Regions from separate parts of the Homo sapiens genome. Here all the other regions are reported to be linked to region 3. Evidence: microRNA targets listed by miRTarBase, many of them from high-throughput screens and not tested one by one. Region 3 holds a microRNA gene; each other region holds the end of a gene's coding sequence.

Region 1 (9,744 bases), not on the chromosome of region 3:
GGAGGCTGAGGCATGAGAATCGCTGGAACCCAGGAGGCAGATGTTGCAGTAAGCCAAGATCGTGCCACTGCACTGCAGCCTGGGTGACAAGAGTGAGACTCCGTCTCAAAGAAAAAAAAGGGTGAGTTCCATGAGGGCAAAGACAGGGACTTTATCTTATTGACCCTTCTGTCCCTAGAAGAGGCTGGCACATTGAATGAATGGAAGCTGGGCTTTATTTCAGGTCCACTTACAGGTAGACTAATTGCTGATTACAGTAGGTGAGGCTGTACCTGAACTATGTCAGGTGTGCTGACTTTGAACAACCTTGCAAAGGTTAGGGACAGCCTGCTTTGCTCTCCAGGTAGTGTTCTCTCTGCAGCCTTTCAGACTTGTTAGATGATGAAGAATGGAAGTCCCTTCGTGTACTGACTGACTCCTGACCCTTCCCTCTGCTTGTGTTCTTTAGCTGTGGGATGCTGCCAGTGGCTCGTTGCTCCAGGACCTACAGACCGATCAGCCTGTGTTGGACATCTGCCCATTTGAGGTGAACCGTAACAGCTACTTGGCTACCTTAACAGAGAAGATGGTCCACATCTATAAGTGGGAGTGACTGTGGTCTCGAAACCTTGAAGGCATGCTGCTGGTTAGATGTTGTTTGCTAGCGCCTAGCAGCCCCAAGCAAGATCCCTGTTTATTGTCTGCAGTCTAGAACATTGGGAATCATGGTTTGTTTGCATTAGTATGATTCTAGGACCCTAGGTCACTGAGACACTACAGATTGTGTATCTGTTATGTCCACTAAAAGAGTAATTGATGGGTACTTTATCTACATTATCCATTTCTTGGGTTTAAAGCCTTCATTAACCATTATTGTATGTTGGAAATTCTTATTTTCTTTATTTTCTGTGTGACTTTCTGGACCTTAGAGAGTGTCCTCTCATCATCTAGGATGTGAGTGGGCATCAAGCATTTTCTGGGGAATATGACATCCCATCTGAGTTGTCCTGTCACTTAAGTATCCTTGAAGGGACTAACCATCGTCTTGGTACTGATTTGATGCAACGTAGATGTAAAAGAGTATTATTCAGTTGAACACAAGAGGGCACTGTAGAACCTTGTGTCCGGTTTATTTCTGACCTTGAAGGCTGACAATCTTTTAGTAACTTGTCTCATCTCCACACAAGTGTGTGATAGCACACCTGGGTGTGCTTTGTGGCAATAACACTTGTGTTCCAGGTGTGAAGTGCTGGGACATTGGCAGGCCCAGTGATGGAAGCAGCTAGTGAACGATTCCCTTTGCTAATGCCTAGTGCATTAAGTTCATTGCTTTGCGAAAGGTAAGGAAAGAGGCCAGTTGTTTGAGCGGTGGGGAAGATTTTGTTTTTTCTAGCCAGCTTAGGATCTCAGGATTGGTTTTATCCAAGCTAGTGCTTTGAAGAACACTATCTCTTGCCAGGAAAAGATGAGTGATAGGTCAAAGCTTTTACTTGAGTCTCCCCTAGTGTCAGAGATCAGGAGAAAAGACATAAGAGAATTTACAAAAGCTATTCAGACTGCTATTGAAAACATGAGAAGAACTTGTCTCCCATTTTGAGAGTTCCTATCTAAATAAAGCCAATTCCTCAGACTGAGGGGCTGTTCTTAAGTGTTCTTTATACATTCCAGTTATCCAGTTAAAGCCTTCCCCATGTGAAGCTGATGTTTGATTCCAGTTTCCTTTGATTTGCCTCCCTAACCTTTTCTAGGGCTCAGTTTGTATTTCTTTGCCTTGCCTCAGACTACTTTGCCAACCCACTTCCACAACAGAATATGCTTCAAGATGTGGGCAGGTCAGTGTCCTGTTCATGGGAGAAAATGGCTTAACAGTCTGATTTTCTCAAATGATTATTGAAGAGTTGTTATCGTTTTTATTATAAAACACTTCTGACCTGTCAATTCAAGAGCTGTTTCTAGGATCTTTCTCTCCGGCAAGGGGTTGTTGCACTAGATTTCCCCAGAGTTCCAAGTTCTAGTTGTGCCTTTTAATGACCCTTTAATATTTTAGGACATAATTTTTTCCTTTTTTAAATTTTTTTGTAGAAATAGATGTTTCACTACGTTGTCCAGGCTGGTCTTGGACTCCTGGCCTCAAGCAATCCTCCCACCTCAGCCTCCTAAAGTGCCAAAATTATAGGCGTGAGCCACTGCACCCGGCCCCTATTTGAAGACGTCTTTTGTAAAAGCTAGCTTCTAGAACCTGAGAAAAGCTCTTTTCTCAGAGGAGATACTCCTTTTGATATGTTAATGATTAAGAGTGGTTGCCCAGGCCTAGTTTCAGTGGCAGAATAGGATTGGAATTAAAAAGCAGAACTCATCTGGCTTCAGCAGATTGCCACCAAGAGGATACAGGTGGTCAGGTCCTGGCTGGCTTTGTCTTTGGGCCTGGGCAGGCTTAGGATTTGACTTTCTTTGAAGTACCTGATGCTGATTGATTCCACTAATAGTAGGAAGCAAGAGACTTAACTATGAGGGACGTTATGTGAATCTTAAGTCTTACCAGTCCTTGCATTAGTACATTAAATTTGGATGTTTTGGAAGCAAATTCATACGATCGTGAGTGATTTCTCCAAAGAAAAAAAGCCTTGTCCAGCCTGACCAACATGGTGAAACCCCATCTCTACTAAAAATACAAAAATTAACTGGGTGCAGTGGTGCGCATGCCTGTAGTCCCAGCTACTTGGGAGGCTGAGGCAGGAGAATTGCTTGAACCCTGGGAGGCAGAGGTTGCAGTGAGTCGAGATCGCGCCACTGCACTCCAGCCTCGGTGACAGAGCAAGACTCCATCTCAAAAAAAACAAACAAACAAAAAAAAACCCTGATGCCATTCCCAGTCCCCGTTGTAGGACATCACATTTATAAATCCAGGCTTTAGTCTTCTGGGCTCCACCAGTCTCTGCCCCACCATATTCCTTTGTCACTACCTCTAAGTTTTTTTCCCCACTTGAGGATTTGGAGTTAAACGAACTCAAAATGTCTTGTCATTGTATGTATTCTTGCCCCTGCTTTGAAAACAGGGCCATGGGAACTCTGTTTATGCCCTGTTTTAATGTTTCTGTTTTATGTTTTACTGTTAATATGAAAATAAAGAATTTGCTATGTATAATGGCTCCTAGTGCCTTTTGTCTCTTTCACTTCTAGAGGCAGGAACATGTCTGCCTCTTGGGAGAGGGATATAATCCCAACCTGGTAGATTTCTCGGGTTTGTTCGTTTGTTTGTTTTTTGAGACGGAATCTTGCTCTGTAGCCCTAGCTGGAGTGCAGTGGCGCCATCTTGGCTCACTGCAAACTCCGCCTCCTAGGTTCAAGAGATTCTCCTGTCTCAGCCTCCTGAGTAGCTGAGATTACAGGTGTGCGCCATCATGCTCGGCTAATTTTTGTATTTTTAGTAGAGACGGGTTTCAGCATGTTGGTCAGGCTGGTCTCAAACTTCTGACCTTGTGATCTGCCTGCTTCAGCCTCCCAAAGTGCTGGGATTACAGGCGTGAGCTACCGCACCCGGCCTTTTTTTTTTTTTTTTTTTTTAACTGAATCTCACTCTGTTGTCCCAGGCTGGAGTGCACTGGTTCAATCTCAGCTCACTGCAACCTCTGCCTCCCGGGTTCAAGCGATTCCCCTGCCTCATTCCTCTCCAGTACCTGGGAGTTACAGGCGCCTGCAACCATGCCTGGCTTATTTGTCTATTTTTAGTAGAGACGGGGTTTTACCATGTTGGCCAGGCTGGTCTCCAACTCCTGACCTCAAGTGATTTGTCCATCTTGACAGCCTCCCAAAGTGCTGGGATTACAGGCATGAGCCACCTCACCCAGCCATAGATTTTCTCTTTTTCACACAAATGAAGTGGTTGAGGCTTTAGCTTGCGGTTCTGTTTTGCTGTTGCCAGTGGAAAGCGATGTGTTTGCCTCTTAAGAACCCTGTGCCCTGGCCGTGTGGCTCACGCCTGTAATCCCAGCACTTTGGGAGGCCAAGGTGGGCAGATCACCTGAGGTCAGAAGTTCAAGGTCAGTCTGGCCAACAAGGTGAAACCTCATCTCTACTAAATGATATAAAAATTAGCTGGTCGTAGTGGCGGACACCTGTTACTCAGGGGGCTGAGGCAGGGGAATTGCTTGAACCCGCGAGGCAGAGGTTGCAGTTAGCTGAGATTGCACCACTGTACTCCAGCCTGGGTGACAGAGTGAGACTCCGTCTCAAAAAAAAAAAAAAAAAATGTCCTGGTCTTATGTCTATTTACTCTCAGATCTAGGGATCTACATTTCCCAGACTTGTCTGCTGGCTTCCTGCTAGTTTCTTTGAATCCAGGAGACTTTAAAGTGGGAGGAAGAGAGAGGAGGAGAGGACTTTTGTTCCCTTTATTTCTTTTAGTCATTGGTGGCACTTCTGACCGTGGCAGCAGCAATGGGCAAGTATGGGTTTCAGGGTTCCTGCTCAGTACAGTTCTGGCCACCTGCCTCAGTTTCTTTGTTCTGTTTGAGTTCAAGAATCTTCGTTGCCATAAATCATGGTGCTCTGGAATTAGGCTGGAAAGGCTGAAAATGTTTTCCAGTTTCCAGCTGAACAGCAAATGGAGTATACTGGATTCCAGGAGAACTGAATCCATAGGTATAAGCTTACTAACTTCATGGAGCCTGGTGCTCTAAGGGAAAATGACAGAGGTCCTAGGATAGAAGTGAACCCCAAATTACAAAACCCAACACCATTGTTTTTGTTTTTCACAGTACCCTTTTTTTGTTTTCCGTGTCAGTGATTGACTATAAGTGAAATTCTGAAAAAAAATTTTTTTAAGAAACGGGGTCTCACTGTCACCCAGGCTAGAGTGCAGTGGCACTATCCTATCTCGACTGCATCCTCAAACTTCTGGGCTCAGGTAATCCTGTCTCCTCAACCTCCTAAGTAACTGGGACTGTAGTTGTGGACCACTGTGCCCAGCCAATTTTTTTTTTTTTTTGCTTTTTTTTTCTTGGTAGAGACGGGGGTCTTGCTTTGTTGCCCAACTGGATTCAAACTTCTAGTTCAAGCAGTCCTCCCGCCTCAGCCTCCCAAAGCATTGGGATTGCAGGCATGAGCCACCATGTCTGGCCAAAATTCTAAAAATAGACATTTGTTTGTCCTTGTTCTTAGTCAACTTATGTTTGTTGGTAACACTCTCTGTTTTATCTCTTTATGGTTTACTAATATATTAAGTAACATCTTAGTAAATATATATTACTAATAAGTAATTCTTAATGTTATGGAATACATATTATTATTCTATCTTACGGGGGAAGAAACAGGTTAAAAATACTAATAAAGCTTGGGTGCAGTGGCTCATGCCTGTAATCCCAGCACTTTGGGAGGCCAAAGAGGATGGATCACCTGAGGTCAGGAGTTCGAGACCAGCATGGCTAACATGGTGAAACCCTGTCTCTACTAAAAATACAAAAATGATCCAGGCATGGTGGCGTAAACCTGTAATCCCAGCTTCTTTTTTTTTTTTTTTAGACGGAGTCTTGCTCTGTCTCCCAGGCTCGAGTGCAGTGGCACGATCTCAGCTCACTGCAAGCTCTGCCTCCCGGCTTCACGCCATTCTCCTGCCTCAGCCTCTTGAGTAACTGGGACTACAGGCGCCTGCCACCACACTCGGCTAATTTTTTTGTATTTTTAGTAGAGATGGGGTTTCACCGTGTTAGCCAGGATGGTCTCGATCTCCTGACCTCGTGATCTGCCCGCCTTGGCCTCCCAAGGTGCTGGGATTACAGGCGTGAGCCACCACACCCAGCCCCAGCTTCTTCTTGAACCTGGGAGGTGGAGGTTGCAGTGAGCCAAGATCGCGCCACTGCACTCCAGCCTGCGCAACGGGAGCAAGACTTCACCTCAAAAAAAAAAAAAAGAAAAAATCCTAATAAAGGAAAATGACAGATGGTATTTAATTAAATTTTATATGTCCTCGTCTTCCCAGTCTATACTTTGTGTTACCAACAGCAAAGCAGGAGTTGGAGAGCCTGGGTGAAAGCTCATTTTCACTCTTCATAGCTCTGTCTCCAGAACACCCTAGGCTAAGCCCCCACAAATTATTTCTTCTGCATTGAAAATTACAACAAAGCAGACAGTCATACTCATGATGTGGCACTACAGTCTTCAAGTAGTTTTCTGGGTGCTGAGGCTGGGAACCCCACTGTCCAATAGAAGAAAAAACGGGTTCATAGAAGAGGCTATGACACATGGGCTAGAACTGCCCAGCAGTGGTCATCGGAAAGGTCAGCTGAAGAGAGGAGGAAGGTGGAGGAGCTGTTGGGCTTGCTCTAGAAAGCAGGGTGCAGGGCCAGCTGAATAAGGAGTCTACTGTCGAGATGTGAGGAGTGCCATGAACCCACGCTGGTCCCTGAGGAGTAATAACAGGTTTATCCAGTTACAGACACCCAGCAGAAAGGCTTCCTTAGAGGCTGAACATAGGTACCAACTTAAATATCTGGATTTGGATAAAGGGAGAGTTGAAGGCTGAGGGGGAAACAAAGTTCAGGACATCACTGAACAGATGCTTGGGTTAAAAAAAAAAAAAAAATGGCCGGGCACGATGGCTCACGTCTGTAATCCCAGCACTTTGGGAGGTCAAGGCAGGTGGATCACGAGGTCAGGAGTTCAAAACCAGCGCGGCCAACATGGTGAAACCTCGTCTCTACTAAAAATACAAAAAATTAGCCAGGCGTGGTGGCAGGCACCTGTAATCCCAGCTACTTGGGAGGCTGAGGCAGGAGAATTGCTTGAACCTGGGAGGCAGAGGTTGCAGTGACCCTAGACTGTACCACTGCCCTCCAGCCTGGGCAACAGAGCAAGACTGTCTCAAAAAAAGAAAACAAAAACAAAAAACTGGCACTTTTGTTACCTAAGCCAGCTCTGTGTGAGCTGCCAACAGTTGGATAAGCTGCTGGTTAATGAAAGTTGTAAGTGGGAAGTTGGCAGGCCACTTATTTCCTGGAATAAAGAAGGGGATGCCTGCCCTGGATAAATGGTTATGCTCTGCCTTCAAACTCCAATGCCTGTAGACCCTCCCATTTAAGAGAAATGTCACCAGAGTTAAAAAGAGTGCCTCCAGGAGGGTCCAGGGGAATTCCCAGGCTTGAGCTATGGAGGGGGTGTTGAGTGATGATGTGGCTTCCTCCTTTCTCATAAGCCTGGTACAAAAAATTGCTGGTTAGATTGTGCAGGAACATATGGGAAACAATGAGGGCCTAACATGAGAAAGGGTGACAGGGTAGGGGGGAAGATGGGAAATTGCCACGGAATCTAAGCTCAGTGAAGTTCTGACACCTCACTTGTACCCCAGTGGAAGCTCCAGAGTTAGCGATGACCCCAGTTCCTCTCTTGAAGATGATGTCCTGACTTGAGATAGAGAGATGGTATTTCACTAGGCAAACAGTATGCTACCCCCTCAGCTCACAGGAGTCACTTGCCCTTGAGTCAAGGAAGTAAACGAAATATCAAATGCTAACATTTGTTTCTCTGATTGAGACCCTCTCCAAAAGACATGATATTCCTGCAAACTGGCAAATTGCCATAAAGGAAGTAATATTCAAACTACAGTCCGGTCTCTACTGTCTACAGATCAGAATGCTGGGTGAGTTTTTCTTCTCCAGGAGTCTTAGATTCTCGTCTAGACAGTCACTGAGGTTGCTGTGACAGACAAGTTCAGGTCTCTTAGCTGGATAATGTGGGGGTGTCTAGAAATATGTTACTTGTTACTCTTTTTTTTTTTTTTTAATTGAAATGGGGTCTCACTCTGTCACCCAGGCTGGAGTGCAGTGGTGTAATCTCGGCTTGCTGTAACCTCTGCCTCCCAGGCTCAAGTGATCCTCCCACTTCAGCCTCCCAAGTAGCTGTGACTACAGGTATACACCACCATGCCCAGCTAATTTTTTTATATTTTTAGTAGGGACGGGGTTTCGCCATGTTGGCCAGGGTGGTCTCAAATTCCTGGCCTCAAGTGATCCACTGCCTCAGCCTCCCAAAGTGCTGGAATTACAGGCATGAGCCACCACGCCTGGCCTGTTATTTCATTTTTAATCCCTTAAGTCTTGTCAATATGAAGTCACCAATGTCCTAGCTTAGTAGTCTAAACAATTTCTTTTTCTTCCCTGAGACTGAGTCTCACTTTGTCACCCAGGCTGGAGTGCAGTGGCATGATCTTGGCTCACTGCAACCTCTGCCTCCCAGGTTCAAGTGATTCTTCTGCCTCAGCCTCCCGAGTAGCTGGGATTACAGGCGCATGCCATCGCACCTGGCTAATTTTTTTTGTTTTTTTTTTTAGATGGAGTCTCACTCCTGCCAGGCTGGAGTGCAGTGGCGCGATCTTGGCTCACTGCAACCTCCGACTCCTGGGTTCAAGCGATTCTTGTACCTCAGCCTCCCAATTAGCTGGGATTACAGGCGCCTGCCACCACGCCCAGCTAATTTTTGTATTTTTAGTAGAGACAGGGTTTCACCATGTTAGCCAGGATGGTCTCGATTTCCTGACCTCATGATCTGCCCCGCTTAGCCTCCCAAAGTGCTGGAATTACAGGCATGAGCCACTGCACCCGGCTAATTTTTGTATTTTTAGTAGAGACTGGGCTTTACCATGTCAGCCAGGCCAGTCTTCACCTCCTGACCTCAGGTGATCTGCTCGCCTTGGCCTCCCAAAGTGCTGGGATTACAGGCGTGAGCCACCACGCCCAGCCATGCTATGCCTTTTATATGAAAGAGATTCTCTAGTTAAAGAAGTTACTCAGATGTGGTGACCTTGAAAATGAGCCTCTCAGATCTCCAGCTGTGGGGAACATGATTGACCTCTGTTTGATCTGCTGAGCACTGAAATCTACAACTGCATTCATCCCAAGGATCCTCCTAGTCTTGACTAAGAGTGATAGGGCTACTGACGCAGGCCCATTTCTGGAAGACTCAGTGACAGGTAACTTTTGCATGAGGACTATCCTATGGCCTTGGCCAACTTTCTTTTTTTTTTTTTTTTTTTGGAGACGGAGTTTTGGTCTTATTGCCCAGGCTGGAGATCTTGGCTCACTGCAACCTCCGCCTTCTGGGTTCAAGTGATTCTCCTGCCTCAGCCTCCCGAGTAGCTGGGAATACAGGTATGCACCACCATGCCCGGATAATTTTTTGTGTGTTTTTAGTAGAGACGGGGTTTCTCCATGTTGGTCAGGCTGGTCTCGAACTCTCGACCTCAGGTGATCTGCCTGCCTTGGCCTCCCAAAGTGCTGGGATTACAGGCGTCAGCCACCGTGCCGGACCTTGGCTGACTTTCTTAGAAATGAATTTCAGTTTAAGTTGAGTCTTAGATGTTTCCACCGAATCCTCCCGTCCTTCCTTCCCTCCCTCTGTACTTCACACAGTGTTGGACCAGCATCATGGTCACATGGCTCTCTCAGCCACCTCATTTTTCCTACAACTGTTGCCCCTAATAAATTTCTTGCATAGGTAATCCCCTTTTGTTGTCTGCTTCCTGGCAGACCTGGACTCACACAAGTAGTGCCAGGAGTGTTCCAAGAAAACAGGTGGTAAGACGGGGCTGACTAGGGCCCCAGAATAATAAAGACCCGGTGGCAATGTTTAAGTGCCAGAAGCCAGGAGACCACAATTACCACCATTACCAGCAAGATCAAAGGTGATGACCAAGGGCCAGATGCGGTGGCTCATACCTATAATTCTAGCACTTTGGGAGGCCGAGGCAGGAGGATCACTTGAGGTCAGGAGTTC
Region 2 (10,360 bases), not on the chromosome of region 3:
TATATGTTAACTCGTTGTATTCAGGCGTGTAAGACAAATCCTGAGTATATATATGCTCCTTTAAAGGAAATTCCTCCTGCCGACATCCCCAAAAATAAAAAACTTCTAACTGATGGCTATGCTTGTGAAGTTAGATGCCAAAATATCTACTTAACTACAGGTTATGCTGGCAGCAAGAATGGGTCCAGGGATCGAGCTACAGAGCTAGCTGTAAAACTCTTGCAGAAACGTATTGAAGTTAGAGTTGTCCGGCGGAAATTCAAGCATACATTTGGAGAGGACCTCGTGGTGTGTCAGATTGGCATGTCCTCCTATGAATTTCCTCCAGCTCTGAAGCCACCAGAAGACCTGGTGGTGCTGGGTAAAGATGCTTCCGGGCAGCCAATTTTTAATGCTTCTGCCAAACACTGGACCAATTTTGTCATTACAGAAAATGCAAATGATGCAATTGGTATCCTTAACAATTCTGCCTCATTCAACAAGATGTCAATTGAATACAAATATGAGATGATGCCAAATCGCACATGGCGTTGTCGAGTGTTTTTACAAGATCACTGCTTAGCTGAAGGTTATGGAACCAAGAAAACAAGTAAACATGCAGCTGCCGACGAGGCTTTGAAAATTCTTCAAAAAACACAGCCCACTTATCCATCTGTCAAAAGTTCACAATGCCATACAGGCTCTTCACCCAGAGGATCTGGAAAGAAGAAAGATATAAAGGATCTTGTAGTTTATGAGAATTCTTCAAATCCCGTGTGCACGCTGAACGACACAGCTCAGTTTAACCGAATGACAGTTGAGTATGTCTATGAAAGGATGACAGGCCTCCGCTGGAAATGCAAAGTGATTCTAGAGAGTGAAGTAATTGCAGAAGCAGTTGGGGTGAAGAAAACTGTCAAATATGAAGCTGCTGGGGAAGCTGTGAAAACCCTCAAAAAGACCCAGCCAACTGTCATTAACAACTTGAAGAAAGGAGCTGTTGAAGATGTGATTTCAAGAAATGAAATTCAGGGCCGCTCAGCAGAGGAGGCTTACAAACAGCAAATCAAAGAAGATAATATTGGAAATCAGCTGCTGAGAAAGATGGGTTGGACTGGTGGTGGTTTAGGTAAATCTGGTGAGGGCATACGGGAGCCTATCTCAGTGAAAGAGCAGCATAAGCGGGAAGGGCTTGGTCTGGATGTAGAGAGGGTGAATAAAATTGCCAAGAGAGATATTGAACAGATCATCAGAAACTACGCCCGCTCCGAGAGCCACACAGATTTGACTTTCTCTAGAGAGCTGACTAATGATGAACGGAAGCAAATACATCAGATTGCCCAGAAGTATGGTCTTAAGAGTAAGTCTCATGGGGTGGGCCATGATAGGTACCTAGTGGTAGGTAGAAAAAGACGGAAGGAAGACCTACTAGATCAGCTCAAACAGGAAGGCCAAGTGGGCCATTACGAGCTTGTTATGCCTCAAGCAAATTGAGATCTTACTAATTTATTTTGTAAATGCCTAATGAGGCAGATTTTTGAATTAAAGAAATGCTACATGTTCCGGTTGCAGAGTATATTCATAAGATGTCTCACCTTGTTCATTTCACATAGTGGTTTATTAGATATTGGAACCTAAAGAATTCTGTCCACTTGTATTAGCTTAATCCAGCAGATGATATTGTGCAGTTACTGTTTGTGTCTTTGATATTGCTGTGTCCCTCAGATTTTAGTAGTTTGACAAGCAAGAACACATATCCAAATGGAATTTTACCCTGAGAAATTATCATTTTAAAGGGCATAGCACAGCAATCTGCAACAATATGTAAAGTTGATATTGACTACAATAAAAATCCAGTCTTAATTCCAGATTTACTGAAAATGTCAGATCATTTTGTATTAATCTATTTTCATCTTTGTGTGAAGCCAGTTATAGAATGTTTGACAATAAATTGTGCTGTACACGTAAATGTCCTTACCAACTAAATGATGTAAAACTTTCTTAAAGTAATTTTAGTGTTCATTTATTTATAACTTCTACCATGTGATTTCCAGACTATTGGAAGTGATTTACTGTATCTTGTGATATATGGGTTTTAACAAATTCTAGTCTTCACGCTGAGAGAGCACTACTTGAGAGAGCAGTTGAAAGTTTCAAAAACTTTGGTTCAATCTGAAGAAAGGAAGCTTGAACTGTTTGTTCTTGGTGCCTTGCAGAGAGACTCACAGCAACTCTCCATTATAGCTTTCACACGGTTTGGATGTGCAGCACATCCAAGGCAACCACAGCTGTGGTAGAGCTTGGTAAAAGACTGAAGATACATTGGTGCTTTGATGAAAAGGTCAGTTGGCTGGTCCCTCTCTCAAAAAGCTTATTAAGCCTGAAAAGCCAACTTTGTAACATATTTAAAACTGCTATTTTCGCTTATTTCTGGAATGTAAAAAAAAAAAATGTATAAAAAGAATTAGTGTATGCTTCCTGAATAAAAAGGAGCCAAAGTTGATCAGAATGGTGGCGTGCTCATTTCCGGGCAGCAGCCTTGTAGCAACACTGGGTCTTTGGAGAAGGGAAGTGGTGTTTGCACAGAATAGTTCAGCACCCAGAGCACATGTGGATGAATGTCCGGATTTAACAGATAGGAATCAGTCAACTATCACTTTTTTCCTATGGACCAACATGCTGGCTTCAACCAAATCTTTGGCTGCCCCCTTTTATGTGATTTTATTTTTGTATCTCAGATAAATCAAGTATAACCTCATAACAGCACAGGTGAATTTACCATTGCTCACTAGACACCTCTAATGAAATGATGTTCAGGACAATTAGGTGGTTTACAGTGCTTGACAACATTTAGCACCGTGCTTGACATGTAATTGGCCAACAAGAAATCGTAATTTCCTTTCCCGTTTTTTGTTTGTTTGTTTTTGAGATGCAGTTTCGCTCTTCTTGCCCAGGCTGGAGTGCAATGGTGCAGTCTCGACTCACTGCAACCTTCACCTCCTGGGTTCAAACGATTCTCCTGTGTCATCCTCCCAAGTAGCTGGGATTACAGGCACCCGCCACCACGCCCGGCTGATTTTTGTATTTTAGTAGAGACGGGATTTCACCATGTTGGCCAGGCTGGTCTTGAAGTTCTGACCTCAGGTGATCTCCCTACCTTGGCCTCCCAAAGTGCTGGGATTACAGGCTTGAGCCACCGTGCCTGGCCCTGTTTTTTATATTTTACATTAAGCAGCTGCCCACTGTAGTTAAATTAATGCTTAAAAAATATAAAGGGATTAGCCTTTACACCTGGATTTCTGTAACTGGTACTCATCTACGGTAACTAAACAGTGTGATAATTGTTTTCCATTAACCGTCTTCCTACAGTGCATAGCCTTTCTTAATGTCGGTAGGAAGAGAAATGAGGTGTACATTTTATTTTGCCACTTCATATTAACATTGGCAAAAAAAACTAAGCAAAATGTTTATAGATTTTGTAGGATTACAATTTGTTTTTTGAGACAGGGTCCCACTCCGGTTACCCAGTCTGGAGTGCAGTGGCGCAGTCTTGGCTCACTGCAACCTCCACCTTCCGAGTAGCTGGGACTTCAGGTGCGCACCGCCTGGCCTGGCTAATTTTTTGTATTTTTAGTAGAGATGGGATTCTGGTCTCAAGCTCCTGGAGTTACGCAGTCCACCCTTCTCAGCCTCCCAAAGTGCTGGGATTACAGGCATGAGCCACTACACCCGGGCTACAATTTTGTTTTGTTTTTAATTTACAAGGTTCATGCCAACCTTCAGAAGCTATGGTTGAATTTGTGAGTTAGAAAAAAACCTGTTTTCAATTCTCTGAGTAAGAGTGGCTTTGGGATTAAGGGATATGAAAACTTCACTGATTACTCTCTTTACATTTCTTTCTTCCCCCAAATGATTTTGAGGCAGGGAAAGGTAGGGGATTGTTAAATATAATCTGGTTTGTCTAGGTGAGTCCAACAGAACAGAATATTAAGGTAGTTACAGTTAGGAAGGCTCCCAAATAATTGCACCAAGTAGATACAAATTTGGTTACTGGATTTGAGGGGCCAGATTGCCTAACTTCTTAGGATCTGTGATATTGATACAGAATTAGAGCAAAATCACTTAACTTGCTTGAGGATAAAATAATGTTGAGAATGGCGTTGGCATGAATGAGCTGCTGACAAGCTTGCTGTTGTTCCATTTTGTTCCATTTTGTCCCCTTTCAGTTGGTTACTGTATTTTCCCTTTCTTTGAAATGTAGTCATTCTTAACCCAGTAACCTTCCTATACAATCTGTACAGGTACATGAGCAATTTCAAATTTTATTTGGATTAAGTGTTTTTTATACTGAGGAACTAACTGTTCTTTCCATTTTATATCTAGCTTTTAGTATCACAGATCTACTTTTTGGATTTTTTTCCTCCCCTTTGATTGCAAAATGAATGGCAATATCATGCACTTTGTTGGGATTCTTTTTTAGTAGTATACAATGCATTCTCTTTGCTATGAGTAACCCCTGAAGCTGGAGATGGGTCCTAAATAAAGGATTCTAATTGCAGCTTTGGTTCTTCATCATACCTCCTTCCCCACATCAGCACGTGCAGAATTGAAAAGTTCAAACCTGACTGCCATTTGAAAAAGGGACATTGCAAATTTGTTTTCATTAACTTTGTTATCAATACATGTAGCCTGTGGTGTTAAAAATTTTAAAGGGAGAAAGAGGCAATTAGCATGAAATGTTCAAATGAATGGTTTGTGGTGCCTTTGACCATGCATATGTTGTTTTGGGAGGTCAGCTTGTTGGCTCTGTTGTAAGGTTTTAAATGGATTATCCTGTGAAAGAGATTGGGTATAGTGTTTCTCAGGTGTACAGAAGAAAAAAGTTATTAAACCTGACCATTCTGAGTCTCGCCTTACATTGTTTCAGGTATGATTAACAGTGTCAATTTAAAGCACTCAGCCACATAGCAGGATGAAAAAGTTAATGTAAAACTAATCCACCAAATAGAAAAATTTAATGTGGTTCTACTTTGAAGCAGAAATGGACTTGAGGGAAACTATTAAGCAAATTGAAGGACATTGCTCCTAGGTGAAACAATCCAAGTAATGTGGTAATTAGTACAGATTGTACTCCATACTGAGGCTTCAAGTACCATGTCTTAAAAGATGAGTGAGATACATGTGTCATAAGGACTTAACTTCATTTAGCCCCATCCACCCAACCAAACAAGTACCAAGAGGTGGTAGTTTTTACAAAGTCATTGTCCTTGCCTCTTTCAAATGAGATGGGTTGCTCCTCAGAAGAAAGTAGTTTTGTTTAATCAAAGTGATTGAGGATATCTGTACTCCCAAACTTTGCATAGGATTTAAAATACCATCTAGGCCGGGCACGGTGGCTCAGGCTTGTAATCCCAGCACTTTGGGAGGCCGAGGCAGGTGGATCATGAGGTCAGGAGGAGTTTAAGACCAGCCTAGCCAACACAGTGAAACCCCATCTCTACTAAAAATACAAAAATTAGCTGGGCATGGTGGCGAGCGCCTGTAATCCCAGCTACCCAGGAGGCTGAGGCAGGAGAATCGTTTGAACCCAGGAGGCAGAGGTGGCAGTGAGCCAAAATTGCACCACTGCACTCCAGTCTGGGCGACAGAGCTAGACTCCGTCTCAAAAAAAAAAAAAAAAAAAAAAAAAAAGTTTGGTACTGTTTGTTTTTGAGCTAGGGCTTTTAAAGAGGTGGTATGTCAGGATCAACAAGTTAGATCTTGGTCTCTGAGGGTGCTGATAAATACCTAGGTTGGTTTATCCCTGCCCCCCGCACGCCCCCCATAACCTCATTCCCTTGATTGATTATAATGTATACTGAGGTAACTTTATTTAATAATTTTACATTCTGTTAAATTTTTTTTTTTTTTTTGAGAGGAAGAAGTCTCACTCTGTCACCAGGCTGGAGTGCAGTAGCGCGATCTTGGCTCACTGCAACCTCCGCCTCCTTGGTTCAAGCGATTCTCCTACCTCAGCCTCCCAAGCAGCTGGGACTACAGGGGCATGCCACCACGCCTGGCTAATTTCTTTTTGTATTTTTAGCAGAGACAGGGTTTCACTGTGTTAGCCAGGATGGTTGATCTTCTGACCTCGTGATCTGCCCGCCCTGGCCTCCCAAAGTGCTGGGATTACAGGCGTGAACCACTGTGCCCGGCAACATATTCTGTTAATATATTTAAAAAGCATTACCACTTATGACTGGAAAGAAAAAAAAAGTTCTCTCCAGAAGTATCTGTCTTGTCTTTTCCCCTCCCAGAATGAGTATTTTTGCTTTTACCTTAATGTTTGAGGGGGGAAATGAGTACATATGAGATCCCAATAAGAAACCAATACAAAAAGTTTATACTGAGCTAAAAAAAAAAAAAAAAAGATACCTTGACTATGAAATTTTAAGGTTATTTTTATTTACAACTTTTGAAAAATGTACATTTTTTTTTACATGGGTTACTTGTGCAAAGTTAGATTTGGAAGTGATAAATGCATAAAAGGTGACAATAGAACATTAGACAAAACATTTACAAGCCTTGTCCCATACTGCTACTTAAAGGTACTATATATCTAAAAGTATAAATATCCAAAAAAAGATCGCAGACATTGGCTTTAAGGTTCTCAGATGCTGAAAGGGAAGAAATTAAAGCATGCAGCAATAACTCAGGATTTGAGTGGAAAATAGTTTGCCACAGATATGCTATGCTCCCTTCCTTGAATTCATTAAAACTCTAAAATAAAGATGGACAATTGAGTTTATTCACTTAGGGCAGCACTGATCCTTTAAAAAGATTAAAGGAGCTCCAACTTTCCCTAGCTCAAAAACTCACGATTGTTTCCATTCCTCTGCTCCCACACCTCTTTTAAAAAGCAAAAACCCAGAAGACCAATAATTCTGAAACTTGGCATGAGTGTGCCCAGTCAGCAGCTTGCAAAGAGAGGATGTGTCAGTTACTACAATTGCTGTACTCCTTTAGCTGAGTCCTTCAACTTTCTCCTTCTTGCCAGTAAATACTACGTTGTAATTCATATGACTGAGATCTTAGTATCACAGGATTTTTAGCTCCCATGCCTCCTTCAAAATTGTTTACATGGATTTGTTTCTATTCTCTGTAGGCCATATTCCAAACACATTCACTTCTAAATCCAACACAAGTGAAGGACCAGCCAGGATGAAACACTTCAGCAATCATTTTGTTAAAAATAACATCCTGGTCATCAAGCTAAGCATAAGCACCTCTTGTATAACAATTCATCTTAAAAGCTTAAAGTACAATAATAAAAATAACTGCCTGAAAACTGGAAATGAAATACAACAGAAAAACTGAAGCATTAGTAATTTTTGCAAGTAACCCAGGTACAGTACATTTGATTTCATAGAGGGTGTTTTCTGATGTTTAAGGAGAGGGTAGAAGGGGTAGGAAAACTTGGCAAGGAAGATGGAAACAGCACAACAGTTATTTTGCTTTTAATAAAGTAAATGTAATGACAGGAGTAGGGAGGTGACAAACACATCAATATATATTTTTCTTATGGCCAGCTTCTTTAAACTGTACCCGGGGTCAACAATCACGCCAGCTTTGTTCTACTATTGCAGAAACACGCTTTTCATATTCCCGTTTGTTCTCCTGGTACAGCTGAGCAGCCTGGCTGTTTGCTGGACTATTGGGATTGGGTTCATCCAACAGAGACTAAAGAGACAATTTTTAAAATGTCAGTTCCTTAATGCAAAACAACTATTTTATAAGGTAGTGACACTCAATTGAATTGTCCTAAGTACAGCTACATTTCTTGTCTTTAGCATACAAACCCAGAGTTATGTGAATCTGCTAGTAGCTAGGAAAATATATGCGGCTTTTTTTTTTTTTAAGGGAGAAGAGTCTCACTATGTTGCCCAGGCTGGTCTCAAACTCCTGAACTCAAGCAATCCTCCCACCTTGGCCTGCCAAAGTGCTGAGGTTACAGGTGTGAGCGACTGTACCCAGCTGACTTGGGTCTTAATGGTCTACTTTTCATCTATAAAACAAACAAGCTTTGACCAAAAATAAAAAGATCTATTACATTATGACTTTCAAAAACAATTCAATTGCTAATATAAACATATTAAAAGTTATAGTTCGTCACATTAAGGAAAAATTCACCTGTATGGATGTTAGAATGGAAGACACATCATAGGTTGGACTCCAACGGTTCTGAAGTATGTCCAGACATATACTACCATCTGCATAGACTAAGAACAAAGAAGTAGGTACATTAAACGTAACAAGACCACTAAGGTTTTAACATTATAGACAAAACAAAAATAGTCAAGAATACTTTGCTTTTGAAGTTTAAAGATTCCTATGTTGCTTCCCAGTTAACTGCCTAAAAAGATAAGTCATAACCACCACTAGTGAAATAATCAGGATGATCAGAGAATGTCAGATGTGATCAGTATAAAACTGGAAGATATTTAGTGTTCATCCTTTGGAAAAGGCTGCCCTATTATCCAGGAAATCAGAAACATTTTTGAACAGGGTCCCTAGCTATCCACAGACATGTGGGAAATTCATTCCACCAAATTTGTAGGCTGTATCCCCTATCTGAAATAACAAAAGATCACTCAGAGTTCACAAGATTTCATTTTGGCATAAAGATAAACATATCTGATACCCTGAAAAATACTTCATTAACCTAAATAAAAGGCAAGCTGTTCTAGGCTTACTACTATTTTAAAAAGTGCAAAGTGGTTAAGTTAGAATCACCTGTGGTGCTTTTCTGACAATACCGTATGCCTGGCCTTCAACAACAGAATCCTATTCATTAGGTTTGGAGTGGGGCGAAGGCATCTGTGTTTTTAAAATGTTCCACAGTAATTCTGATATGCGTCCAATGAAAACTACTTTTCTAAACGCTAGTGAAAATAATTACAACACAAGACTATCCCAATCTGGCCTAGCATTAAAAGGAAACCTCAAGAGCATCCTTCATTTTGTTTAATAAGTAAATGACAAAGGTCATCAAAATCAGGAGGCTCCCAGACTCCAAGCAAAGGGAAAATACCTCCACTGCTTCAGTTCTAGGACAAGACAGCCACAGACAACCAAGAACAAGTTCAGCTTTCAAGAAGCAGCAAGCTGCCTAAACAAATACTCAGGCACCACAAAATACACAGGAAATGTGGAATACTCCATAATAAACACTATAGTAGTTTAAAACACTGTACTAAAAGTGATACTTGCCATTTGGATGGAACATCTTAGAGACAAATCTAACTGTAGGTGGTTTATTTGGATATTCTTCAGTGAATTCTATTGTAAGTTTAAATGTTCCTGTGGTTAGAAAAGAAAGATTTAAGAAAATGTATTTATCACTTTGTTCAGTAGTACTTTGTTTTTAATGCTATGTGGGTTTTTCCAAGTATTAAATAATGCAAAGATACAGGGTAGAGAGGAAAGGCCAGGTAAGAAATACATCTCTAGGAATTGCTCTAAGAACTACTCAAATGTGATTTTTTGTTTTGCCATTATTTTCCCCCAAACTTGGAGACAGCCATCATAAACACAAAATTACTGCTTACAAGATTTTAGCCACTGTACATTTTGAAAACATCCTTAAGAAACTGGGCCCAAAATTTGGCCTTCTTCCTTTAGAAGACCAAAAGACCTCAAAGGCCTATGTTAGTCAGCTGCCATCTTAAACGCTCCAGTGATTTTTAGACAGACTAGAAAGAATGAAAGCACAATGGTTCAAAAACCAATGCCAGAATACAAATCCATAATCAAGTTATTTTTAAAATAGAAGGGAATAAGTATAAAAGTGTTCATACTGGTTCCTTTTCATGTCATAGTGACCCTATAATGAAAACTTAATTGAATTTAAGCCAGGAAAAACTTCATAGTCCCTCTCAGAAACCCTTAAGTATGGCTCATAAGGTACTTCACTATAAAATCAACTCAATTATTCACACATATGGAGGGAATTAATGGCAGAAATAATTTTAAAATCACATTTGGTTTAGATTGCATTCATGTTTCCAGCAAATTTATTTTTCTAATGTTTATGCTACTATTGAAATGAAATTATTTTTCTTAAATATATGTCAACCTAAGGTAGCAGGAGGCCCTAAAGCATAGTAGGTTATAAACTTACTTACAAGGCATGGACAAACTGGATCTCATTCAAGAATTGTTAAGATGTGATATGAAGAGATTATGTCCTTTAAAATATTATTTTCAATTGTTTGTTGAATAAATTGAAGAACACAATTGAGCAATGTTTTTTCCTGACTGAAATCTGTTCAAGTAAACTTAGAAGAATCAGTTACTATATGGTATAAGGTGATGCATGTTCCACTATATTACTCTGGTCCAT
Region 3 (10,360 bases):
CCGCTATCCACCAACACGCAGCAGCCAGAGTCAGCTTTTAGAACATCAACATTTAATCACTAGTCTCCATCTAAAAAAAAAAAAAAAACCCCAAAACAAAAAAACCCCCCAAAAAAAACAAAAGGCAGCAAGGATGAGAAGCATTATTATGGAAGTCAAGACCACCCCTGTAAGGGCCAAGGTTATGCTACCTTTTACAGAAAATGAGCCTTGAAGGCAAAACATAGCATCATAGTTGAACTTGAAAGTAAGAAAGAAAAACAGTATGAAAGATATCTCTCTTATACACACACTGCCATGTAATTGATATAGATATCAACTTGATAAATTAAAAAAATACAGCTGGGCACGGTGGTTCACACCTGTAATCCCAGCACTTTGGGAGGCTGAGGTGGGCGGATCACGAGGTCAAGAGATTGAGACCATCCTGGCCAACATGGTGAAACCCCGTCTCTACTAAAAATACAAAAATTAGCTGGGCATGGTGGCGCGCACCTGTAGTCCCAGCTACTTGGGAGGCTGAGGTGGAAGAATCGCTTGAATCCGGGAGCTGGAGGTTGCAGTGAGCCGAGATTATGCCACTGCACTCCAGCCTGGCGACAGAGCCAGACTCCATCTCACCGAAAAAAAAAAAAAAAAGTCAGTCAAAACAGTCAGTCCTCGTTTTTGTGGGTTCTGCATCTGCAGATTCAACCAACTATGGATCAAAATATTTGGAAAAAACAGTAAAAAATAACACAATTTAAAATACAGTATAACAACTATTCACATAGCATTTACATGGTACTATGTAGTATAAGTGATCCAGAGATGACTTAAGGTATATTGGAGGATGTGTGTAGATTATATGCAAATACTGTGCCATTTCGTATACAAGACTTGAACATACGTGGATTTCGGTATCCATGGGAGTCCTGAAACCAATCCCCTGTGGATATTGAGGGATGACTGTATATAAAATATGATTAAGTAATACACATACAAATATCTTAAGTATTTGTAAGTGTTTTGAACACCTACCTTAGTGGAAGATTATAGAGGTTTTGAAAAATAAAAAGCCTATCTTAACAATAGTTATTCTGGAATTCTTAAAAGCCAGGCTATTTTAGAATCCATAAAACATCTGTTTATTGTGAAAGTTGTGTAAAGGGTCAATCTGTAAATCAGTGTAAGTACCTAGTGGAATGTGAATGCTTTACCTTTTATCCACTGAACTTATGTTTTTTTAAAACCTGCTTAAAGGCTTGGACTTCCAAATACATTCTGATCACATTAGTAATTTTTTAGTTGACCACTGTAGGCATTTGCCAATAACTAGTATTAATGTAGTGGACCCAGAATCCCATTTTACTTGTGCTGCTCTTTTTATGCCCTCTCTTTTTAAAAGTGGGCATCATTCACCATCCTTGACAACCATTTTATCCAATCTAAAGCTGCTGCAGGAGAACCACCTGCTGAGCATCACCTGGAGGTTCTCCCTGTTCAAGTATAAGGCTTATGCTCTGACAGAGGGAACTTTATCCACTTATGACCCCCAAGTTAATTTAAGATGCAGGATTTGATTTATCAAGCTTACGTGTTAGTTCCTAGTTGTCTAGGATCTGTTTCTGGTTCCAGATACAGCCAAAGATGTGGTAGCAATTCTAATCAAATTGATGTGCTTTGCTAAGGATTTTGAAATTGAAACTTAGATCACTTTTCGAAGAAAGGGCCTAATCTCTGAAATTTCCCTCTGTCTACAGTTCCTATAAGATCCATATTTGTTGGCTATCAGGTCAGTGTTAAAGGTAATCTTTTAAGCTTCGAATTGCAGATTTATATAAATTATACATGGTTGTTCTAAATTTTTTTTTTGAGACAGAGTCTCGCTCTGTCGCCCAGGCTGGAGTGCAGTGGTGCAATCTTGGCTCACTGCAAGCTCCGCCTCCTGGGTTCACGCCATTCTCCTGCCTCAGCCTCCCGAGTAGCTGGGACTACAGGTGCCCGCCACCACGCCTGGCTAATTTTTTGTATTTTTAGTAGAGATGGGGTTTCACCGTGTTAGTCAGGATGGTCTCAACCTCCTGGCCTCGTGATCTGCCCGCCTTGGCCTCCCAAAGTTCTGGGATTACAGGCGTGAGCCACCACGCCCGGCCCTAATTTTGTAAATGGTTGTATAATCAGGATTTGCCATGGCAAAGATTGTGGTTCCTAAGCCCATTTCTGGACCAATTATTGCCCCAAGGTTTATTTTCTCGGAGTTGTTTACTTCTCAAAGAAAAACTTGTAAAAATTCTTGCACACTAAAGTGTTAAAGCTTTAATGTGTTAACACATTGTCAAGAGTACTACATTGGAATTTTGAAAGGCTGGGTAGTAGAATCATGACTATGCTTAACACAAAGTATAGTCATGCACCGCATAACAACATTTTGGTCAACCACAGACTGCATGTACAGTGGTGATACCAAAGATTATAATACCATATTTTTTCTGTACCTTTTTTATATGTACACATTTTTAGATGCACAGATACTTACCATTGTGTTACAGTTGCCTGCAGTATTCAATATAGTAACCTGCTGTACAGGCTTGTAGCCTAGGAGCAATAAGCTATCCCATATAGCCTAGGTGTACAGTAAGCTATATCATCTAGGTTTGTGTAAGTACATTCTATGCTGTTTGCACAAGGAAATCGCCTACCAATGCATTTCTTAGAACCTAACCCTATGGTTAAGCAACGCATGACTGCAGTCACTTATGTAACCAGCCTGGCTGCCGTGCTATGGAGATAAAGAGCAGATTGGGCAACCAGCTATCCTGCCTGCCAGTAAGCTGTAGTTGATTATACTACTGACCAGTGATGCGTATAACTTTTGAGGTTTTTTTTTTTTTTTTTTAATGCGTCTAACTTTTTTTTTTTTTTTTTGAGACAGGGTCTGGCGCTGTCTCCCAGGCTGGACTGGAGTGCAGTGGCATGACCTCGGCTCATTGCAACCTCCGCCTCCCAGGTTCAAGCGATTCTCCAGCCTTAGCCTCCCGAGTAGTTGGGATTACAGGTGCCTGCCACCACACCCAGCTAATTTTTGTATTTTTAGTAAAGATGGGGTTTTACCATGTTGGCCGGGCTGGTCTTGAACTCCTAACCTCAAGTGATCCACCCACCTTGGCCTCCCAAAGTGCTGGGATTACAGGCATGAGCCATCACACCCAGGCTTGATTAGTATAACTTTTAAGGGTTTTTTTTTTTTAATACATGTGAAACCAAACAGCACAGGGCCCAATACATTGCTCTGTCGCCTTGCTCTGTCACCAGGCTGGAGTGCAGTGGCGTGATCTCCACTCACTGCAACCTCTGCTTCCCAGGTTCAAGTGATTCTTCTGCCTCAGCCTCCCAAATAGCTGGGACTACAGGCACGCGCCACCACGCCCAGCTAATTTTTGTATTTTTAGTAGAGACGGGGTTTCACCATGTTGGCCAGGATGGTCTCGATCTCTTGACCTCGTGATCCGCCCCCCTCGGCCACTCAAAGTGCTGGGATTACAGGTGTGAGCCACTGCGACCGGCCGCCGAATACGTTTTCATGATTACAAATTAATGGTTTAATTGTCCATTGATGAAAATTATGCATGTGAAGTTTGGCGAGGTCTACTGTAAATATGAATTACTTTAAAGATGACTTTCTTTTGAAGCTCATTTGATATAGTCATCGTTGGTGGCGGAATTGTGGGGCTTGCCTCTGCCAGAGCACTCATCCTGCGACATCCATCACTTTCTATTGGTGTTCTGGAAAAGGAGAAAGATTTAGGTATGTATATAATCAATGTTGTTCTTTGGGCTTACTTGGGCATCTGCTCATTTTGTCTGTTGTGAATCTTTCATGCTGAATGTCAGTGTTAGTTTCTTAGTTTGTGTTCTAAAAGCAGAGTGTGGGACAAGGACATGGCTATAGGTTATTTGAGAGGTTAAAGCCGAGTGTGGGACAAGGAGGACGTGTCTATAGGTTATTTATTTGAGAGGTTATCTCAGGAAACAGGAGTGAGGGGGTGAGGAAAGTAAGACAGGGAAGGAGGAAAAGACATGAGAACACATCAAGATTGTGGCTGTGAGCTTGATTCCACCGGAGCCTCTGAGGAGCAATGTAGTATTTCCCAGGATTGTGCTCACTTTATCCATCGGCTCTTCTCTCTATTGGTTGAGGATTGCCGCTAGTGATGTTGAGCACCCCGTGCCCTTCTCTAAAAAAGTTACCAGAGGCCCCAAGGCAGAGTGCAAAGAGCCCTAGGGGGCCCCTGAAGTGGTTTGCTGGTAATGAGAGGTGAGTTTGTGCACCAAAGTTGTAGTTGAAATCAGAGATGGGCTGGAGGGATGTGACATGGATACCAGGGATGTTAGAAGAAGTTACCAGTGATCTGAACAAATTCAGGCAGAATTTTACATGATGTGGTCTCTAATAGCTTCAACTATAAGTTTGTTCTCTTACCTCTTATGTTTTGTATGAATCATGTACTTACTCTTACCCTGTTTCTCTTGTTCTGTAGCTGTTCACCAGACTGGACATAACAGTGGTGTCATACATAGTGGAATTTATTATAAACCTGAGTCTCTGAAAGCCAAATTATGTGTACAAGGTGCAGCCCTCCTCTATGAGTACTGTCAGCAAAAGGGAATTTCCTACAAGCAGTGTGGCAAGGTATGGCATTTTATTAGAGCCTTGACTAATTTCCAACTAGCATTTGCTTAGTGATGTTTAATATTACATTTTTTAAAAATGTATTTTTTTCTTTGTATCTATGTAATTTTTCAAATCTAATCTTAGGGAATAACTAAAAAAAGATGGTGTGACGTTATGTAATTTTCTAAATAAAAGTTTTATTGACATATAATTTATGCACCATACAATTCGCCCTTTTAAAGTGCACAGATCAATTTTTAGTATATTTATAGAGCTGAGCAATCATCACCACTATCTAATTTCAGGCTTTTTCATCACCCCAAAAAGACACCCCATACCCATTAGCAGTCACTTCCCATTTCTACCTCCCCCGATGCCCTAGCAACCACTAGTATACTTTCTGTCTTTGTGGATTTGCCTGTTCTGCACTTTTCATATAAATAGATTCATATACTATGTAGTCTTTTGTGACTGGCTTCTCTCACTTAGCATAATGTTGTCAAAGTTCATCCCTGTTGTAGCATGAATCAGTACTTCATGTCTTTTATGGCTGAACAATATTCCATTGTATGGATATACCACATTTTATTTGTTCATCAGTTGATAGACATATGGATTGTTTCCACCTTTTGGCTATTATGGATAATGCTGCTATGAACATTCATGTATAAGTTTATTTGTGAACATATGTTTTCATTTATATTGGTTATATACCTGGGAGGGGAATTGCTGGATTGTCAGGGTAACTCCATGTTTAACATTTTGAGGAACTGCCAAATTGTTTTCCAAAGCTCTGTGCTATTTTACATTCCCACCAGTAATTAATAAGGATTCCAATTTTCCATGTCCTTGCCAACATCTATTTTGGTTTGTCTTTTCTATTTTAGCCATCCTAGTGGAAGTTTTGATTTGCAGTTCCCTAGTGATAATGATGTTGAGTGTCTTTTATTTTTTCCTTTTTAGAAAATAGTTCTTGAGCCCAAGGGTTTGAGACCAGCTCGGGCAACATAGTGAGACCCTATCTCTACAAAAAATTTAAAAAGTTAGCCGGGTGCGGTGGTGCACAACTATAGTCCCAGCTACTTGGGAGGCTGAGGTGGGAGGACTGCTTGAGCCTGGGAGATCAAGGCTGCAGTGATCCATGATTATGCCACTGCACTTCAGCCTGGGCAACAGAGTGAGACCTTGCCTCAAAAAAGTTAAAATTATTATTTTTTAACTTTATTTCTTATTTAAAAGTTGAGACAGGATCTTGCTTTGTTGCCCAGGCTGGTCTCAAACTCCTGGCTTCAAGCACTCCTCCTGCCTTGGCCTCCTGAAGTGCTGGGATTACAGATGTGAGCCACTGTGCCTGGCCTAAAATTATTTTTTAATTGACAAAAATTGTAAATATTTATCATGTACAACATGTTGTTTTGAAGTATGTATACGTTATGGGCCGGGCAGGGTGGCTCACGCCTGCCTGTAATCTCAGCACTTTGGGAGGCTGAGGCAGGCAGATCACTTGAGGTCAGGAGTTCGAGACCAGCCTGGCCAACATGGTGAAACCCCATCTCTACTAAAAATATAAAAATTAGCCGGGTGTGGTGGCACACGCCTGTAATGCCAGCTACTCGGGAGGCTGAGGCACGAGAATTGCCTGACCCTGGGAGGCAGAGGTTGCAGTGAGGCGAGACCACACCACTGAATTCCAGCCTGGGCAACAGAGTGAGACTCTGTCTCAAGAAGTATGTGTACATTGTGGAATGGCTAAATCAAGCTCACCAACATATGCATTACCTTTCATACTTATTTTTTTTTTATGATGCAAACACTTAAATCTACTGTCTGAGCAGTCTTCAAGAATATAATACATTATTAACTATAATCAACATTTTGTGTAATAGATATCCTGAACTTATTCCTCTTACTTAACTGAAATTTTGTGTCCTTTAACAAATATCTTTCCACACCACCCCTGCCTCCCTGCCACCCTCAGCCCCTGGTAACCACCATTCCACTCTCTACCTCTGTGAGTTCAACTTTTTGAGATTCTACATGTAAATGAGATCACGCAGTATTTATCTTTCTGTGCTTGGTTTATTTCACCTAAGATAATGTCCTCCAGGTTCATCTCTGTTGTCATTTGTGGCATGGACCATTTGTGACAATAGAGATGAACATGGAGGATATTATCTTAAGTATTTCTCATTATCTTAAAGATTTTCTCCTTTTTTAAGGCTGACTGGTCTTTTGTTATGTATCCACCTGAACTGGCCTCCCACAGTGTTGGGATTACAGGTGTGAGCCACCACGCCTGGCCTGATTGTATGGTTTTTGTCATTCATCTTGTTGATATGATGTGTCACCTTGATTGATTTACATATGTTGAACCATCCTTTGCATCCCTGGGTTAAATCCCACTTGGTCATGATGAATGATCTTTTTAATGTGTTGTTGAATTTGGTTTGCTAGTATTTTGTTAAGGATTTTTGTATAGTGTTCATCAGGAATATTGGCCTATAGTTTTCATTTTTTTGATGTGTCTTTGTCTGGGTTTGGTATCAGGGTAATACCAGCCTCATGGAATGTGTTTGGAAATATTTCCTCCTCTACTTTATGGAATAGTTTGAGTAGGGTTTAGTATTAGTTCTTCTTTAAATGTTTGGTAAAATTTAGCAGTGAAGCCATCAGGTTCTGGGCTTTTCTTTACTGGGAGACTTTTTATTATGGCTTCGATCTTATTGCCTTTTATTGGTTTGTTCAGGTTTTGGATTTCTTCATGGTTCAATCTTGGTAGGTTGTATGTGTCCAGGAATTTATTCATTTATTCTAAGTTTTCTAACTTATTGGCATATATAGTTGGTCATAGTAGCCTTTAACAATTTTTTGAATTACTGTGGTATTGGTTGTAATGTCTCTTTTTTCATCTCTGATTTTATTTATCCGGGTCTTCTCTTTTTCTTAGTCTGGCTAAAGGTTTGTCAATTCTATTTATCCTTTCAAAAAACCAACCTTTCATTAATCTTTTGTATTGTTTTCTTTGTTTCAATTTCATTTATTTCTGCTCTGATCTTTATTATTTATTTTCTTCTACTAATTCTGAATTTGGTGTGCTCTTGCTTTTCTAGTTTTTTAAGATGCATTGTTAGATTATATGAAGTTCTTCTACTTTTTTGATGTAGGTGCTTATAGCTATAAACTTTCCTCTTAGTACGGCTTTCGCTGTTTCCCATAGGTTTTGGTATGTTGTCTTTCTATTTTCATTTGTTTCAACAGATTTTTAAATTTCCTTCTTAATTTCTTTATTGGCCCACTGGTCATTTAGGAGCGTATTGGTTTTGTTTGCTTGTTTGTTTATTTTTTTGAGATAGAGTCTCTGTCTCACCCAGGCTGGAATATAGTGGCACTATCTCACAGATCACTGCAGCCTTGACCTCCCGGCCGGGCATGGTGGCTCGCACCCCTAATCCCAGCACTTTGGGAGGCTGAGGCGGGGGATCACCTGAGGTCAGGAGTTCGAGACCAGACTGACCAACGTGGAGAAACCCCATCTCTACTAAAAATACAAAATTAGCTGGGTGTGGTGGCTCATGCCTGTAATCCCAGCTACTTGGGAGGCTGAGGCAGGTTAGTTGCTAGAACCTGGGAGGCAGAGGTTGTAGTGAGCTGAGATCGCGCCATTGCACTCCAGCCTGGGCAACAAGAGCGAAACTCTGTCTCAAAAAAAAAAAGTCCTCCCACCTCAACCTCTGGAGTAATGGGGATCACAGGTGCACCACCATGCCTGGCTAATTTTTCTTTTTTTTTTTTTGAGACAGAGTCTTGCTGTTACCCAGCCTGGAGTGCAATGGTGCCATCTCAGCTCACTGCAACCTCCACCTCCTGGGTTCAAGCAATTCTCCAGCCTCAGCCTCCCAAGTCGCTGGGACTACAGGCTCACGCCACCATGCCTGGCTAATTTTTGTATTTTTAGTAGAGATGTGGTTTCACTATGTTAACTAGGCTGGTCTTAAACTCCTGACTTCAAGTGATCTACCCACCCAAATTGCTGGGATTACAGGCATGAGCCACCATGCCCAGTCATTTTGTTGTTGTTGTTCGTTTTGGTTTTTTTTTTTGAGTTAGGATCTCCCTCCGTTGCTCAAGTTGGTCTCAAACTCCTGGGCTCAAGTGCTCAAGTGATCCTCTCACCTTGGCCACCCAAAGTGTTGAAATTACAGGTGTGAACCACTATGCCTGGCCAGAGGCATATTGTTTAATTTCTGTGTGTTTGTATAGTTTCCAAAATTCCTCTTGTTATTGATTTCTAGTTTCATTCCATTGTGGTCAGAGAATATACTTGATATAATTTCATTTAAAAAAAATTTTAAAGACCTGTTTTGTGGCCCAACATATTGGTCTATCCTTGAGAATGATCCATGTGCTGGGGAGAAGAATATATATTCTGTAGCTGTTGGATGAAACTCTCTGTAAATATCTGTTAGGTCCATTTGGTCTGTAGTGCTCAGTAGTTTATTCTTTGTGATGCTTTTGTGAGGAGAATTGTTTTCCTACTTTCATTTTTTATAATTCATTGCTAATGCATAGAATATGATTGATTTCTGTATGTTGATTTTTTTTAATCCAGTGACCTTTCTGAACTCATTTTGTTCTAATTGTGTGTGTATGTGTGTGTGTGTGTCTATGAATTCCTTAGGCTTTACTATATGCAGGATCATGTCATCTGCAAATAAGTTAGTTTTACTTCTTTTCCAATTTAGATGTCTTTTAACTACTTATTCTGCTTGCCTGATTTCCATGGGTGGAAGCTCCAATACTGTGTTGAACAGAAGTAGTAAAAGTGGACCTTCTTGAATTGTTCTTGATCTAATAGAGAAAGCATTCAATCTTTTACCCTTAAGTATGATGTTAGCTGTGGATTCCCTTTATCAGATTAAGGAAGTTCCTTTCTATTCCTAGTTTGTTGAATGTTTTCTATCATGAAAAGGTGTTGAATTTTCTCAAATGCCTTTTCTGCTTCTATCAAGGTGATCATGTGGTTTTTATCCTTTATTCTATTAATGTAGTGTATTAATACATTTTTGGATGTTAAATTGATTTTACATTCCTGTGATAAATCCCTCTTGGTCATGGTGTAAAATCCTCTCTATATGTTGCTGCATTCAGTTTATTAGTATTTTGTTCAGGGTTTTGCATTAATATTTTTAAGGGATATTGGTTTGCAATTTCTTACGATATCTGGTTTTGGTAAAAGGCAAAATATTTTTTCTTTCTGAAGAGAAACCAGAGCACTGGTTTTAGTATCAAACTAATATTGGCCTCACAGAATTAGTTGGGAAGTGATTCTTACTCTTCTGTTTTTTGGAACAGTTTATGAAGAATTAGTATTACTTTTTTTTTTAACATCTGGTAGCATTCATGAATAAAGCCTCTGGGCCTGGGCTTTTTTTTTTTTTTTTAATGTGGGAAGTTTTCAATCACTTCATGTGTTATAGGTTTATTAAGTTTTTCTTCTCAAATCCGTTTCAGAAGTTTGTGTCTTTCTAATAATTTGTTCATCTAGATTTTCTAATTCGTTGCCATACAGTTGTTCATAGTATTCTTTTATAAGTCCTTTTATTTCTGCAGTGTTGGTAGTCATGTCCTTCATATAAGTTTTTTTTTTTTTTTTTTTTTTTTTGAGACAGGGTCTCACTTTGTCACCCAGGATGGAGTGCAGTGGTG

The links. Region 3 holds the annotated microRNA hsa-miR-4504 (UGUGACAAUAGAGAUGAACAUG, at 6,797-6,818, shown strand). A microRNA usually pairs through its seed, bases 2 to 8, with sites in the 3' UTR of a target mRNA and lowers its output. Matches are read on the target gene's strand: a 7mer-m8 pairs with bases 2 to 8, a 7mer-A1 pairs with bases 2 to 7 and ends in A, and an 8mer does both.
Region 1: miRTarBase lists RFWD3 as a target of hsa-miR-4504. Seed matches in the 3' UTR shown: 7mer-m8 at 2,933-2,939.
Region 2: miRTarBase lists UBE2A as a target of hsa-miR-4504. Seed matches in the 3' UTR shown: 7mer-m8 at 7,510-7,516 and 7mer-m8 at 6,508-6,514.

Annotation. Positions count from the first base shown.
Region 1 is chr16:74,614,776-74,624,519 of GRCh38, reverse strand. It overlaps RFWD3 (ring finger and WD repeat domain 3), which reads left to right. Exons shown (of 13, transcript NM_018124.4): 13 at 449-3,121. The coding sequence ends at 592. Among named protein-coding and RNA genes, the nearest start is that of GLG1, 13 kb to the right of the region's middle. RefSeq lists an enhancer at 3,260-3,759.
Region 2 is chrX:119,580,465-119,590,824 of GRCh38, reverse strand. It overlaps UBE2A (ubiquitin conjugating enzyme E2 A), which reads right to left. Exons shown (of 6, transcript NM_003336.4): 4 at 9,229-9,318; 5 at 8,149-8,237; 6 at 6,402-7,698. The coding sequence ends at 7,570. It overlaps NKRF (NFKB repressing factor), which reads left to right. Exons shown (of 4, transcript NR_163972.1): 4 at 1-2,488. Among named protein-coding and RNA genes, the nearest start is that of UBE2A, 11 kb to the right of the region's middle.
Region 3 is chr14:50,296,329-50,306,688 of GRCh38, reverse strand. It overlaps MIR4504 (microRNA 4504), which reads left to right and starts at 6,743; the gene lies at 6,743-6,834. L2HGDH (L-2-hydroxyglutarate dehydrogenase) reads left to right here. Exons shown (of 10, transcript NM_024884.3): 2 at 3,672-3,787; 3 at 4,521-4,672. RefSeq lists an enhancer at 6,508-7,201.